Linked DNA regions of Homo sapiens: region 1 is linked to region 2. The links come from fine-mapping of genetic effects on gene expression. Tissue or cell type: whole blood. Region 2 holds a variant in brackets; the other region holds the start of a gene. All regions are shown on one strand. Distances are between the middles of the regions.

The links. PIP is the estimated chance that this variant, and not a neighbour inherited with it, causes the effect.
Region 1: it holds the start of NT5E, and the variant in region 2 is fine-mapped to the expression of NT5E in whole blood (INTERVAL, PIP 0.92).

Annotation. Positions count from the first base shown.
Region 1 is chr6:85,448,742-85,451,499 of GRCh38, forward strand. It overlaps NT5E (5'-nucleotidase ecto), which reads left to right and starts at 1,342. Exons shown (of 9, transcript NM_002526.4): 1 at 1,342-1,737. The coding sequence starts at 1,399. RefSeq lists a silencer at 1,135-1,404.
Region 2 is chr6:85,379,468-85,382,225 of GRCh38, forward strand. No RefSeq gene overlaps it. Among named protein-coding and RNA genes, the nearest start is that of LINC02535, 24 kb to the right of the region's middle. The variant G/A (reference allele first, on the strand shown) is at 1,454.

The DNA.
Region 1 (2,758 bases), 69 kb after region 2:
GTTAACATAAGGCAATATGGGTGATGGGTATGTGGGAACTCCCTTTATTACCTTTGCAACTTTTCTGTAAGTCTAAAATCATTCTTTTTTTAAGTTAAAACAGCAAAACTACCAGTTCTTTTACCTGCTTCTAGCAGGTGCTCAAAGAGGGACAGAGCAAAACCTTGCAAAGCATGACATTAGAGGGTGTCCCAGAAGCAAGGGTCTTCTGTAGCCCCAGGCACTGCTGCTCCCAAACTGCATGGCCTTTCTTGGCAAATGATTTACAATCTCCGAACCTCAGGTCAATGTCTTAAAAACGGGCACAGAATGTCTTTTCAACAAATGGTACTAAGAAAACTGGATATCCACATGAAAAAGAGTAAATGTGGACTCATACCACATATGAAAATTAACTCAAAATGGATTAAAGGTCTAAGAGTTTAAATTATAAAACTCTTAGGAGAAAACATAGAGGAAAATCTTCCTAACATTGTATTTGGCTATGACTTCACTGCGACACCGAAAGCACACGCGACAAAATAAAAATAAAATAAAATAAAATAAGACCAGAAAAGCAAAGAAGGGCAGCATCCCTTCCCGTCCTGATAGCTGCCGGATTTTACCCCAATCGTGTTTCTGCTTCCAGGAGCTGTCCGCGCGTCGCCTCTGTTTTATCACTAAGGTTTTAATTGTGAATAAACAAGGAACTGGATTCGAATGATTTCTTAGTTTCTGAGATTTTTTTGTCTAAGCATCGTAGACTTCGTGCGTTCTCAACCCAACAGGAAGCGTCACATCTCAGTGAGCTTCGGCTCTCACAGCCCGAAACTGCAAGGAGCTCCTCTGCCCGGCCTCTCTTTACTCCTCCTCTCTGCCCCTCAGCTCGCTCATCTTTCTTCCCGCCCCCTCTCTTTTCCTTCTTTGGTTCTTTGAAGTGATGAGCTAGCGCAACCACAAACCATACATTCCTTTTGTAGAAAAACCCGTGCCTCGAATGAGGCGAGACTCAGAGAGGACCCAGGCGCGGGGCGGACCCCTCCAATTCCTTCCTCGCGCCCCCGAAAGAGCGGCGCACCAGCAGCCGAACTGCCGGCGCCCAGGCTCCCTGGTCCGGCCGGGATGCGGCCGGTACCCGCTCCCCGCCGGGAACAACCTCTCCACTCTTCCTGCAGGGAGCTGGTGCCAGCCGACAGCCGCGCCAGGGCCGCTCCGGGTACCAGGGTCGGATCGGGTGACGTCGCGAACTTGCGCCTGGCCGCCAAGCCGGCCTCCAGGCTGAAGAAGGACCCGCCCCGGCCTTGACCCGGGCCCCGCCCCTCCAGCCGGGGCACCGAGCCCCGGCCCTAGCTGCTCGCCCCTACTCGCCGGCACTCGCCCGGCTCGCCCGCTTTCGCACCCAGTTCACGCGCCACAGCTATGTGTCCCCGAGCCGCGCGGGCGCCCGCGACGCTACTCCTCGCCCTGGGCGCGGTGCTGTGGCCTGCGGCTGGCGCCTGGGAGCTTACGATTTTGCACACCAACGACGTGCACAGCCGGCTGGAGCAGACCAGCGAGGACTCCAGCAAGTGCGTCAACGCCAGCCGCTGCATGGGTGGCGTGGCTCGGCTCTTCACCAAGGTTCAGCAGATCCGCCGCGCCGAACCCAACGTGCTGCTGCTGGACGCCGGCGACCAGTACCAGGGCACTATCTGGTTCACCGTGTACAAGGGCGCCGAGGTGGCGCACTTCATGAACGCCCTGCGCTACGATGCCATGGTAAGACCCGAGCCCGCGCCCGGGATAGTAGTCCCGGACTGAGAGAGGAGCCGGGCTGGAAAAGCAGCGGATGGCAGAGTGTGGCAAGCCTAGGTCCAGGGCGCGGAGAGATGTGGGGATAAAGTGAGACTCCGGCCAGTGTGCCAGCTGGATGCATAGAAGTCCCTTGGACGATTCGTCTTAAACGGACGTTATTGCGCCCCCACTATGAGATGGGAGTATTTAGAGGAGCAGGACCCAGTCCTGCCTGCGAGGGGCTTAAGGTGGGGTGCGTAGAAGCACTGACAGTTATCCAGAGCTAGGGACTGAATCGGATCCCTCACGCAGCTCTCATTTACTGCTAGATCTTTCAAAGAATGCTTTATCTCAATCTAGATCTTTCGAAAAATGCTTTATCTCAATCTTATTGAAAGGGAAACCGCGTCGAAGAAGCTGAATAAATTAACAGGCACCATCCCCGCAAAAAGGGAGACGTGATAAGAATGGACACCAGATCTCTTTGACCCCGGAGCTTGAGAGTAATTAAGCTCACAGCTTTGGGGTAGATTCTCTGTTCAATTACCTTCTATGTGACCTTGAGCAAGTTATTTACTCTTTCTTGCCTCAGTTCTATCCTGTATAAAAATAAGGATTATAATTGTACATAGTGCACATAGTGTGGTCTCTATATTATTACCAGACACATAGTGTGGTGTCTATATATGTTGTTATTACCAGACACTATAATATAGGGTTAAGAAAAGGAAAGAAAGAAAGAAAGAGAAAGAAAGAAAGAAACTTCAGAGAGAGCCAAAATGTGGAAAGACTTGGGTTTCAAAGGATTTCAATAAAGTAGGTTTGGCGGCAGAGATTTAGGAAGAGTCCAACTTAAGAGATAATGGGCTCTTAAAACATGTGCAAAAGTTTAGTTCAAAGTCCCAAATGTTAGGTTAAAGGTAATGCCTTTTCTATTGCACTAAATTCTAGAAAGGGAGCAGAGGTGGTTGCACAGTAATAAATAAGTACAACCAAGATGTATATA
Region 2 (2,758 bases):
CAAAATAAAGGGATGGAGGAAGATCTACCAAGCAAATGGAAAACAAAACAAGGCAGGGGTTGCAATCCTAGTCTCTGATAAAACAGACTTTAAACCAACAAAGATCAAAAGAGACAAAGAAGGCCATTACATAATGGTAAAGGGATCAATTCAACAAGAAGAGCTAACTATCCTAAATATATATGCACCCAATACAAGAGCACCCAGATTCATAAAGCAAGTCCTTAGAGACTTACAAAGAGACTTAGACTCCCACACAATAATAATAGGAGACTTTAACACCCCATTGTCCACATTAGACAAATCAATGAGACAGAAAGTTAAAAAGGATATCCAGGAATTGAACTCAGCTCTGCACCAAGCAGACCTGATAGACATCTACAGAACTCTCCACCCCAAATCAACAGAATATACATTCTTCTCAGCACCGCATCACACTTACTCCAAAATTGACCACATAGTTGGAAGTAAAGCACTCCTCAGCAAATGTAAAAGAACAGAAATTATAACAAACTGTCTTTCAGACCACAGTGCAATCAAACTAGAACTCAGGATTAAGAAACTCACTCAAAACTGCTCCAGTTTTTATATCCAGATATAATATCCAGAATCTACAAAGAACTCAAACACTTCTCAAAAGAAGACATTTATGCAGCCAACAGACACATGAAAAAAGGCTCATCATCACTGGTCATCAGAGAAACGCAAATCAAAACCACAGTGAGATACCATCTCACAGCAGTTCGAATGGCGATCATTAAAAAGTCAGGAAACAACAGGTGCTGGAGAGGATGTGGAGAAATAGGAACACTTTTACACTGTTGGTGGGACTGTAAACTAGTTCAACCATTGTGGAAGTCAGTGTGACAATACCTCAAGGATCTAGAACCAGAAATACCATTTGACCCAGCCATCCCGTTACTGGGTATATACCCAAGGGATTATAAATCATGCTGCTATAAAAACAAGTGCACACGTATGTTTTTTGCAGCACTATTCACAATAGCAAAGACTTGGAACCAACCCAAATGTCCATCAATGATAGACTGGATTAAGAAAATGTGGCACATATACACCATGGAATACTATGCAGCCATAACAAAGGATGAGTTCATGTCCTTTGTAGGGACATGGATGCAGCTGGAAACCATCATTCTCAGCAAACTATTGCAAGGACAGAAAACCAAACACTGCATGTTCTCACTCATAGGTGGGAATTGAACAATGAGAACACTTGGACACAGGAAGGGGAACATCATACACTGGGGCCTGTCATGGGGTGGGGTGAGGGTGGAGGGATAGCATTAGGAGATACACCTAATGTAAATGACGAGTTAATGGGTGCAGCACACCAACATGGCACATTTATACATATGTAACAAACCTGCACGTTGTGTACGTGTACCCTAGAACTTACAGTATTAAAAAAAAAAAAAAAGAAAACCACAGGAAT[G/A]GAAAACCAAACACCGCATGTTCTCACTCATAAGTGGGAGCTGAACAATGAGAACATATGGACACAGGGAGGGGAACAACACACACCAGGGCCTGTCGGGGGTTGGGAGTAAGGGGAGGGAGAACATTAGGACAAATACATAATGCATGTGGGGCTTAAAACCTAGATAATGGGTTGATAGGTGCAGCAAACCACTATGGCACATCTATACCTATGTAACAAACCCGCATGTTCTGCATGTGTATCCCAAAACTTAAAAAAAAAAATAAAAAAATTAAAAAAAGAAGTGTGTTTGGAAAAAAAAAAGTGACTAGGTAAAAAAAAAAAAAAGGCTGGGCACGGTGGCTCACGCCTGTAATCCCAGCACTTTGGGAGGCCGAGGCGGGCGGATCACAAGGTCAGGAGTTCGAGACCATTTTGGCTAACACGGTGAAACCCCGTCTCTACTAAAAATACAAAAAATTAGCCGGGCGCGGTGGCGGGCGCCTGTAGTCCCAGCTACTCGGGAGGCTGAGGCAGGAGAATGGCGTGAACCTGGGAGGCGGAGCTTGCAGTGAGCCGAGATTGCGCCACTGCAATCCGGCCTGGGCTAAACAGCGGGACTCCGTCTCAAAAAAAAAAAAAAAAAAAGAAAGAAAAGAAAAGAAAAAAAAGAGAGAATGAAACTTGGGTATCATCTAATCCAATCTCTTCTTTTTATCACTGTTTGAATCAAGGCCCAGAAAGACAAAGTACCTTGACTGAAGTAACTTATTTTTGTACTTCTTGTATTTTACTGGGTTCATTCATTTACTCTTAGATTGCTTCAAACAATTCAAGAAAACTGGTACTTGAGAAATTAAAATATGTTGAAAAAATGATTTTTTTGCCTGAATTTAGAATAAAAGAAAAGGAAGAGGAAACTCATCAAAGGTAGACAGTCATTAGACCTCTAGTTCTGGCCTACCTAAAAATATTTTTATGTAAGTGAGAACTGACATCAAAGACAAAATTAAAAGAGCAACATTACCATTATTTTGGGCATGACCTTGAAATATTAGTAAATGAATTCTCTACATTTAAGCCTCCAAGCTCCAATTTACATACTTAGTCAACAGACTTGTTTAAAGGTAAGATTTTATTTTAATTGGTTCAATCTCAGTGACAAACTTGTAGCCTAAAAGCATCCTAGCCTGATTTTCACATAATCTAGCCATTAACTTAATTCACTGGCTTTAAACTTATGCCATAGTCCTCATGTGATTGATGTTTATAAATTTGCACTAGTTGGCCAGGCGCGGTGGTTCACGCCTGTAATCCCAGTAA